Homo sapiens: one gene and its partners. The protein of the gene in region 3 interacts with the protein of the main gene of each other region in a pairwise test. Each region holds a gene or a part of one and is shown on either strand. Other genes may lie near its edges. The genes, in order: MLLT10, SPMIP6 and RBPMS.

What was found.
Region 1: the proteins of RBPMS (region 3) and MLLT10 interact in binary tests that used the Homo sapiens proteins (3 or more experiments, as listed by UniProt).
Region 2: the proteins of RBPMS (region 3) and SPMIP6 interact in binary tests that used the Homo sapiens proteins (3 or more experiments, as listed by UniProt).

What each region holds. Positions count from the first base shown.
Region 1 is NC_000010.11:21,733,100-21,736,754, forward strand, and holds part of MLLT10 (protein AF-10), read left to right. Parts: intron 1-404; coding exon 405-493; intron 494-668; coding exon 669-1,030; intron 1,031-2,039; coding exon 2,040-2,136; intron 2,137-3,655. UniProt on the Homo sapiens protein: Probably involved in transcriptional regulation. In vitro or as fusion protein with KMT2A/MLL1 has transactivation activity. Binds to cruciform DNA.
Region 2 is NC_000009.12:34,395,628-34,399,382, forward strand, and holds the start of SPMIP6 (sperm microtubule inner protein 6), read right to left. Parts: upstream 2,184-3,755; 5' UTR 2,007-2,183; coding exon 1,872-2,006; intron 708-1,871; exon of another isoform or gene 1-707. UniProt on the Homo sapiens protein: May participate in intramanchette transport and midpiece formation of the sperm tail. May play a potential role in somatic cell proliferation.
Region 3 is NC_000008.11:30,387,431-30,391,085, reverse strand, and holds part of RBPMS (RNA-binding protein with multiple splicing), read right to left. Parts: intron 1-3,655.

The DNA of each region.
Region 1 (3,655 bases), on a different chromosome or scaffold from region 3:
ATATTTATTTTGTATCTAAGGAAAATAGGCTTTCAGTTTTATTTGTATTATAAGTGAGTAATAATTGGTCACCAGTTATATGAAGATGTAGAAAAGGAACTATAGGTTGTTTTTGAAGGGCATAAAGAATCCTGTTAAGTGATCAACTTGAATTTAACTTTCTTAGTCCATAATATAATGGTAAAATTTACTTAAATGTCTAATGATCTCGTTATTGATTTAAAGCGATGGTATTCAATATAGATTTTTTTTTCTTATTTAAATCAGTCTTAGGAATAGCAAGACTAGATATTTAAGTGGTTTTGATACGGGCTTCAGCATAAGCTTTTTAATAAGCCTTTAATCTTACACATAATGTAATTTAATAGGGTAAATAGGTTTCTTTTTGTCTTTTATTATTCTAGCTCCTACTACTGATTCCTTGAACAGCAGTAAGAGCCCTCATATAGGAAACAGCTTTTTACCTGATAATTCTCTTCCTGTATTAAATCAGGTAATTTTTGTATGGTTATTTTCATCTATGTTGATTTACTTGTGAATAATAGTATATTAAATGGTTTAAAATTATTTTAAACAGTTTTGCAGTGTTCTTTAAACTTAGTTTCTCTTCTTTCTTACGCTGGGACTTAATGTCCAGTGGACTTAGTTTCTCTTCTTTCTTACGCTAGGACTTAACCTCCAGTGGACAAAGTACCAGCAGCTCATCAGCTCTTTCTACCCCACCTCCTGCTGGGCAGAGTCCGGCTCAACAAGGCTCAGGAGTGAGTGGAGTTCAGCAGGTCAATGGCGTGACAGTGGGGGCACTAGCTAGTGGAATGCAGCCTGTAACTTCCACCATTCCTGCCGTGTCTGCAGTGGGTGGAATAATTGGAGCTTTGCCAGGTAACCAACTGGCAATTAATGGCATTGTAGGAGCTTTAAATGGGGTTATGCAGACTCCTGTCACAATGTCCCAGAACCCTACCCCTCTCACCCACACAACCGTACCACCTAATGCAACACATCCAATGCCAGCTACACTGACTAACAGGTAAGAAACTTAAGTATGTTTTGGGTTTTTTAGTATAACAGAGTACCGGTGTTGTCTATGCCTTAGATTGGGGCTTTCAATGTGTTCCTTTGTAGATACACCTTAAGAAGTCTGCCAAAAATTTTAAGTATATTATACAGAGTACATTTATTTTTGAAACTTAAGTAATTTAGATTAAAATTAAGTTACTTTTAGTAACAGCATTATGTTCTGTGCTGAAAATTAGTCTTAATCTGTGATGTCTGTTTTTAAATACTAGTTTTTCTTATTTCTTTGTATACTGTATCATAAATTCTGAAGAAAGATATCGTAGTGGAGATAACATGAATATTAGTTTCCTAAAATTTATGTAATATTTTTAATGTTCTAATCAAAGATTTTGATATAGGATAAAGGTCATTTATCTGAATTCCCAGGAAGTGAGACTCACTGGTTTCATTGTACTGGAACTGCATTTGAATGTTTGTTCAAAACTAGGGGACTAAAGCTATGTTGTTATTAAGCATACTTTTGGGGGAATAAATACTTTTAAATGGATTTGCAGTGGGTACTAGAAAGCTATTTCCTGTAGCTCTCTTCCTTGGTGTTTAGTTTTACCATTGGGACCATTAGAAAAGGATAGGTCAAATCAGTGGTATGTTTGGATTCTTTGTTTCAAATATGTGTTTACTTAGTGTGAGTTAAATTATCCTTGAATAATTAAAGATAAATTATTACATACGCTTGTTAGAAACACATGTAAATTTCTATTCCATAAAATGAGTTAGGGCCTATTTGTTTTATAATAAAAACATTTCTTGACAATGTGAATTCTTGTTTAGCTGTACACATGGATGTATATAAACATACATATATATAGAAATTGTACATAACTGTTTTCAGAGTGTTTGGATTCAGAATTGTACTTAAGTTATTAAACATCAAATTGAAAAGTTGTCTTTCATTTTTAGACTTCTAAAAATGCATTAGAGGTGTGTAGTAAAAAGTAAGAATTGTAATCATTTTTCAGTGCCTCAGGACTAGGATTACTTTCTGACCAGCAACGACAAATACTTATTCATCAACAGCAGTTTCAGCAGTTGTTAAATTCTCAACAGCTCACACCAGTAAGTTCTTTCTTTTGATAATATCTTATTAGGAGCATGTGTTCTAAGCTGTAATATTCACTGTGGGTACAGATTTCTCCTTTGTGAAATAACATTATTGAATGCATAATCAAAAAAGTTTTTCTTGCCATGTGGTACAGGCTGTGATACCTGCAGTGATGTCACATTCATTCCTGAACTTAAAAGTGACAGGGCACGTGGCATGGTGCTGCCATAGGCTCTGGTAACACAGTGCTGAGATGTGGTGCGTGTTTTCCCGGAGCTTCATTTTGATACGGGAGATGGATGGACACGATGCACGCTTTTTGGTTGTGATAAATACTGAGAAGAACAAAGAAGTGGAATAAGTGGGGAAGAGCATAGGGAACCGAGGACCATTTTAGATAGGATGGCCCCGCCTCTGCAAGGGGGGTGACTTTTGAGCACAGACCGATGTGAGAGTTCAGGGAGTGTGCCTTTGTGACTTGAGGGAACGCAGAGAGAAAGCACGTTGGAGGTAAAGGGGCAGCTGCTGTCAAAGGTCTGGACGTACTTGTGTTCGGAAGAGAAGTCAGCAGCCATGTGGTCAGAGGGTGGGAGAGGTCAGAGCCAAGGGGGTGGTCTTAGATGATCGCATACAGCCTTTCTTGGCTGTGGCAAGAAATTTGGATTTTATCTTAAGTATGAATGGAAAGCCACTGGCGAGTTTTTAAAAATCTATTACGGAGGATTTCAAGTGTACCAAAAGTAGAGTGGAGAGCACCCTGAAGACCTATGTACGCCTCATTCCATTCTCTCACCCAGTGCTAATAATCTTAGTTTTGTTTATCTCATTTCATTCTCCATTTTTTTCAGGATTAAGAATTGGAAGGTTTTGAACAGAATAGTGAAATAATGATTTACATTTTAAAGGATTAGTTTTGCTGCTATATGGAGAATAGTCTGTGTGTGTTATAGGGTGTGGGGGAGTGAAGACAGAGGCAAAAGTGGAAAAAGGGAGTGATCCAGGCAGGAGACGTAGGTGTTAAAATAGTATGGGCTACGTATTGAAAACTGCCTGGAATTGTGGTATATATATGTATATTTTTGAGAGGGAGTTTTGCTCTGTCGCCCAGGCTGGAGTGCAGTGGCACAATCTGGGCTCCTTGCAACCTCCATCTCCTGGGCTCAAGTGATCCTCCTGCCTCAGCCTCCCGAGTAGCTGGGACTACAGGCATGTCCCACCATGCCTGGCTAATTTTGTATTTTTTGTAGAGACAGGGTTTCACCATGTTGCCCAGGCTGGTCTTGAACTCCTGACCTCAAGTGATCTGCCCTTAGCCTTCCAAAGTGCTGGAATTACAGGTGTGAGCCACTGTGCCCAGCCAAGATGTTTTGAAGACAGAACCAACAAGACTTGTTTGCTGGACATACAAGAGAAAGAAGAATTCTGAATGGTTGGTTAGTGACTTTTACTGAGATGTGGGAGAACAGAACCCAACCAATTTTGGAGAGAAAAATAGGTGTCATGGACACACTAAGCTTGAAATCTCTTTAGATG
Region 2 (3,755 bases), on a different chromosome or scaffold from region 3:
CAGACCTCTTTCCTTTGCTTCAGATAAGTATATCTAACTACTTGCCAAACATCTTTTCCTGGATATCCTCAAATATTTTTGTTCTCAAATGAACTCCAAATCTCTAATCTGTTATTCCAAACCTCAGTTGATAGCATTAGCATTCCTCCAGCTGCCACAGCCAAAAACTCAAGGGTCACCCTAATCTCTCACCTTACCATCCATATGGTGACCAAAATCTGTTCATCTACTTTTTAAAATTCCCTTCTATTGAGTATGGAGTCAGGCACTCTCATATTTTGCTTGTGGAAATGTAAATTGTTACAACCCTTACTTATTATGGCAATTTGAGGTATATAGCAAAAGTTTTAAAAATGTGTATATCTTTTCTCCTAACAATTTCATGTCTAGTAATTTATCCTAAGGGAATAATTGGAAATGTGTACAAAGATACATGTATAAGAATGATTATACTAGCAAAATTTTATAAAGTACCTAAATTTTCAATAAGATTCCTTAAATACACCATTTTGTAATAAATTTTATTTATTTTTATAATAAACAATATTTGCTTCCTGAAAGGGCATACGATAATATATTAACAATGGTAATTTTAGGTAGTAGGATTTTAGACCTTTTTTCTTTGTGCTTCTCTGAGTTATCTGCATTTTCTACATTCAGCGTATATTTATTTTGGAGTTAGACAAAATAAATTATTTTAAAAATTCTCTCCTATTCAACGAATTCCTTTTTTCATTGTGACAATCTCCTTATCTCCCACCTACATCCTCCTTCCTCATCTGTTCACCCCTCGCTGGCCTTCCTGCCCTCAACCCCAGCCCCTGCAATTCCCTGACACTGTGGCCAGAGTGGCCTAACTCACAATTGAACCATGACTCTCCCTCCCAGGTTCAAAAACCTGGAGCCTTATGTCCACGCTCCACAACATAGCCAGAGAGGCCCTTCTTGGTCTGCAGACTCCTCTCTCACCCAAGGACTAAACTCTCCTGCTCTAACAGTTTCAGTTTCTGGTAGGTCCCTGCCCACAGGCTGCCTTTTCTCCTGACTGTCTTCTGCTGGAAGCCTCCTCCTCCTGGATCCCTCAGTAGGTCTGCCCTTCAGGTTGGGCAGCGCTCTCCCCTTTCTGGCTCTCCACCTCTGCTGGTGCATGTTCCACATCGGGCAACTCTACTTTGTTCACTTGTTTGCTGTGAGCTCCTCAAAGGCAAGGGCTGGCCCTTCCCTTTTGTATCCTGGGTTGCCTACAGATGAAGATACTCAGCAAAGTTGGATGGTACACACAGATAAATTCTCTTAGGCAGAGTCACAGTTAGACTCACAGATTTCCTCCCACCTGGCCACCAATCTTCAAGCACAGACACAAGTAAACTGTGATACATATAGATAAAGGCATGCATATAGGACAGTTTCCGGCCTATTCCACAGGCAGCCTCAGGGCCTTTGCACTTTGTGATCACTTGTCTGGAACTTTCAGCTCTTCTATTCTTTCAGGTCTTCATGTGGCTAGTTCTATCTCATCTTTCCAGTCTCAGTTTATTGTCACCTTGAGAGAGGGTTTTCCATGACCTAAGTAGCCCTCCCTTTCCATTTCCACTTCCACTACTCTGTTTATTTCCTTTACAGTATTTTTGAAGAATTTATAAAACTCATGTTTATTTCTTATTATCTGCCTGTTCCTACCTCCTACCCTAATGTAATTCCATGAAGGCAGGATTTTGTGCTGTTTTACATACCATTGTAAATTCTGTGCCTAGGTAAATGAATAAAACACACACATACACAAAGCTACAAATCATTACAAACATACATTGCCAGGCATCCAGACTGGCCATACACTCTGGCCTGCCCCTCCCCACCAATCTCCCACTTACCGGAGTCAGAAACTTGTTGGCTTCCCAGGCACACAGGGGTGGGTCCTTATAGACCTCCTTGATGGAGGTGGGAGCCCTGTAGGAGTCACTGTAGGTACTGATAGGGGTCCTGGTCTTACGGGAGAACAGGAACATGGTGTGGTCTTGGAGATGCCGTGGTGGGCTCTACCTGTCAAGGGCTCCTGCTGGACATCAGTGACCACCCTTCCCCTAGACAGGCCACACCTCCAGCCTGGCAGGTGCCCTTAGCTGCTATAATCCCCTCCTGCAGAGGATCTCTCAGCTTCCTTCCCCAACAGCCTTCCTGCTCCCACCCCACACTGATGCCCCCTCCAGGATGGGCACTGCCCATTGTGATATCACCTGGCTCAGCCCCATCCCTGGGAAGGTGAGGAGGTCTAATTCCCTCCCTGCTCCTGACCCCCTCCTGCCTCAAGCCTATCAAAAGAGCCCAATTTCTAAGAGTTCAGAGGGCCTCTGGAGATCTTCTAGGTCAGGTTTCTCACTGTTGAAGAGAAACAGAGGTTCGGAGGGGTTGTGACTCACCCAGGGTCATGCAGCAGGTCAGTGGCATGCCTGGGAACCCACAGGTGGAGGTGGAGTAACATGTGTGCCCAGAGGACCAGTTCTGTCTGCTTCCCAGCCCATCTGCCCCTTGCCCACACCCCAGGGAGGGAGCTGAGGCTGGCTTGTTTGATGCTTTTAATATCATTATTTGTGTTACACGATACACAACCAAGGATGATGGTCAATACTGCAATGAAAATGTTAAAAAAAATATTATACACGGCTCATGTCTTCCACACACCTTCCTGGAAATAAATTAGTGAGCACGGAGAAACCTGGCTGGGTGGCAGCCACAGCTGAGAGAGGAGGGAGTGTTAAGGCAGTATCTACAAGGGGAAGGGTGGCAGGAGGGCAAGCTAAGGCCTAGATTCTTCCCTCCAACCTCCCAGACAGGGAAGGAGGGAGCCACACCCCTCCCTAGACACAGAAGCTGCCACTGCCAGCTTCCTGCCTCTCTCTGCCACACATGCACTGCCTCAGTTGGAAGCCCTTGCCTGCCAGGGAACTAGTATGTCCTGTGGGGGGGGAGATTTTCCCTGGTGTCTCAGGGCCACAGAGATTGAACAATGGGCCCGAGTCACACTGCAAGTCAGCAGCAAAGGCAGCAGTCTAAATGAGCCCCCAAAAAGAGGAGGTACCCATGTTCTAGAAAGGTGAGCCAAGGAGCCCCGGGGTGGTGGTGGTGGTAGTGGGAGGGCTGGCTCTGGGGTCCAGATGATGGGGGCACAGGGGTTGGGGGGATGTTGATCTGGGTGGGAGAGGTGGGTTCAGATGGGGGCCAGTATGGGCCTTGTGGGTCCTGCAGGTACCTTCTCTGTCCTTGCCTCCCTTTGTTTGGCATTTTCTCATCATCTAACTTGGGTCCCTGCACTAGAGGAGGTAGGAATGGGTTGGCGGAGTGGGGGGTGGTGAGCTGTACCCCAATATTTTGGAGCTGGCAGTTCCTGGGTATGATGCAGGGAGAGGTACCACCCTTCCTAAGCCAACAGTCTCACTCCCTCCTCTCATTGCTCCCCATTCCAGCTCCCACCTCCCAGGATTGGTGTCCAGAGAGTGGGCTGTGGGTGAGTCTACTGCATGCCTGCAGCATGTGAGTGGATCCATGGGAGTGGATCCACCAGCACATGTGGGGTGTTAGCATGAGATGATCCACCTGGGCCTGTGCTATAAGGTATGTGGGCACAGGCCTGTGCAGTCTTAGGCTATCTGTGCTTTCATTTTTCTTCACACGGTGGCAGGTCTACACTGCCCAGCCCCAGGGGTGGGCCTTCCTCACCTCTTCCCTCTTGATTTTCAGTCTCAGCTTTCCAGTCCCCT
Region 3 (3,655 bases):
ACCAGGCAGGCTCACCTGTGCTCGCAAATGGAGGTTCCTAATGACAAAGGGATGGAAGTAATTTTCCAGCCGATCCATCCACACCTTTTCTAATTCCCCAGTGCAGAGCACAGAAGGGATCCTCAATATTAAACGAGTGGCTGCTTCTTATTACCTGTACAAACTCATAATCACCAACCTCACCAATAAGGCTATTTCATATATATTTACAAAGAATTATATACGTGTATATATGTAAGTGTGGATGTGTGCAGAGGAGATTTACCTGGTGCTGGGGTAGGTGTTGAACATTGGGAATACTGTAAAATGGCATAGACCCATACAAAATAAATAGCTGAAAAAAATAATAACCAGGAGTTAAATGGACATAACAGAAAGTAACTTTTACTGAAATTCTAATGAAAAATCATCTCTATGGGATGGGACATTCAGGTGAGGGGGATCTTGCAAAAATGTAGGCTGAAAAACTTGAATCCTGGCTTAAAAGCAGCTCAGACTAGATCAAGAGAACAGAAGAGGAAGACCTAGGCTTCCTCTTAGCAAAGGGATCACAGTATACAGGTAGGTGAGGGCAATCCCGAACGCCATGTGCGCACTTGACTTTGTGGAGTACCAAGTAGCACTGAAGGATTCGGGGCATTGGAGGGCCCAGCAGTATGGTGTAAGGATGGACTCCAGAAGAGCATCAGAACAGGAGAGCAGCTGAAGATCACTAACACAATCAAGATAAGGGAATGAGTAAGAGAAATACTAATAGTACTAAGAAAGACTATGTCTGAGGAACAAGGCAGACCTGATTCTCACCGCTAGGCTTGTGAGCAAAACTAAATGTGACCAACCTCGGTTTTGTGAATATCACGATTCAAGGAAACCCTCAAAGCAAAAAGACATTTAATTCTTTTTGTTCACATGGTCATTTTCGAAAACTTAAACACCGAAAGGCATCAGAAAGTAAATAGCAATGATCTGTAATCCACCAATTAGATACAATTAATGTTTGGTTTTATGAATGAATATACATTTATTTGAGAACTGGCATCACATAGCATAAAACTTTAAAATCAGTTCTTTTCATTTAATATTACAACATGAGAATAAAAATATAGTCTTCAGAATGTCTGGAGCCACTGAAGCTCAAAGAGGTAAGGACAGGTTCTCCTCTCCAGCCTTTAGAGAGCACGGTGGCCCTGCCAACACCTTGACTTCAGGTTTCTAACCTCCAGAACACAGAGAATAGTATATAACCACATATGTATAATACATAATAAATATGAATTTATATATAATACATATTTTATAATCCATGTATTTTTCTCTTTAAAAACGGAGCCTTTAGTGGTTGCACAATATTCCCCTTCCAGAATTATACAATGATTTAGTTAGCAGTTTCCCATGTTAGATAGAGTGCCTCTGAATTGTCACTGTCATAAGTCACTGCAAAAATCATTCCTATATATAAATCTTTATGATACCGTTTTCTTAGGGTAAATTTCTAAAAATAAAGGTACTAAATCAAAGGGCCTGAACACATTTTGATAGTGTCACTCCTTTCTGAAAAGCTACACTAATTTACATCACCACTGCTCTGCACAAAAGTACCCACTTTATTGCCTTGTCACCAGCACTGAACACTTTTATCCTTAAAGCAAAAATTAACATGAACCTACGAAAATCATGTGAAACCATCTCCAGAAGAGAACTTCCACCCCTTCCAAACTACCCATCTGAAAACTAATGCCACTGGGAATGAAGAAGACTGCAGATGCACACAAGGGTTTATCAGGGAAATGTTTAAACCGCTACTGGAAAAATAACTCAAAAGTGCATGCCATATTGACAGGGGTCATGGAGCATCAGTTGTCACCAAATCCTATTCTACAACTGAAATATATGTTTATTGCATTGGATTGAACTTGGAATAACAGAGATCCCCAATCTTGGTTAAATTGTATAAAACCATTCTGTACTTTCCTGAAGTCACAATGTAGATTGACTTTAATGCTCAATGAAAATTTGAGGTTGCCACATCAAACTGACATTACCCTCTCTGCAGCAATTTTAAGAAATAATTTTCTTTACAACCCCAATATTTTGGCAAAATTAGCACTTTAAAAGAAGGAATGCAAAGTAAAGGTTTGTATTAACCTCAGAAGAACTGACTGTATGATTTCTGCACATCTTTTTGATCAATATTCCAACACTTCCACGTTTTTTGCTTTTTTAGTTTTATTATAAGTACAAGTCAATTCAAAGCAATTTAAGGAGAAATTAACACCAGTGCTTCAATATAATAAAAGGCCTTTTAAAGATGTTTTACAATCAGCCTGAAAAGTACTCAATGACATGGATAAAAGTAGAAATAAAAACCAAATCACATATTTAATCTAAATTTCTATTTTGAAAATTCAGTGACCAACAAATAAGTTACAAGCTATAAGTTAGCTTTATAGCTATAGCTATAAGTTATAAGTTAGCTTATAGCTATAGCTATAAGTTATAAGTTAGCTTATAGCTATAGCTATAAGTTATAAGTTAGCTTATAGCTATAGCTATAAGTTATAAGTTAGCTTATAGCTATAGCTATAAGTTATAAGTTAGCTTATAGCTATAGCTATAAGTTATAAGTTAGCTTATAGCTATAGCTATAAGTTATAAGTTAGCTTATAGCTATAGCTATAAGTTATAAGCTATAAGACAGAAAAGGTCTTGATATATTTGAAAATACTTTAAACTCATCAATTATAACTGATTAGGTAAGACAAATAATTATGGATCTATTATATATCAATTTTTATAAAGTTTGATTGCACAATTAGAGAAATTCTAGGAATCATTTTATCAATTGTAAAATATAAGAAATGACATGATACTCTAAACATATATAAACAAACCTTAAAAATCTCAGTGAGATTTTGACAACTGGTTAGTCTTTACAGGACAACTTGCTTAGGGAACACACATGTATAATACATTGTACGTGTATTACACATGTATTTAATGTAATAATACATTAAAAATCGGAAAGTTAAATGTATCATCTCTCTTACACAACTGGCTAGCCAAATCCTAAATTATTTTTCCTCAAAGTTTTCAATGCTATCCAAAGTAGAAGTATTAATACATGTTCTGCCAAAGTTCTCAAAAACTTCCAACCCTAAAAAGCTGCAAAAATACTCCTAGATCCTGAACTGTTCATTCTACACAATTAGAACCAAAGAGGCATTTCAGCACAATTATTTCAGGGTAAGCATTAGAAACTCTCAAAAGAAGCTAAAATACACTGATTGATAGAAGGAATTCGTTTCGAAACTAGAAACACAGAAAAAAACAAACTTGGGTTCTACAATGTGGAGAAAGCCCAAACCACCCTCATGATCTGTGAAATAAACTATTTTCCCTTAATGATGATTGGACTCATTTTTCCATGTCAGTTCAATGGCTACCAGAAATTACAACGAAACACATTTTTCCTCTCGTCATTACGTGTATATATCTATGTTGTATGTGTGTGTTCTGTTTACTGGAGTCCACCGCCAAGGTTTTTAAATGTGCTTAAGAGCAAGTTGCTGATACAATGGGTGGGCAGGGAAAGGGTCAGTGCAGTGGTTTTGTGTAATGCCGGGCACATTAATGGCACTCACCTAATACTCTATTT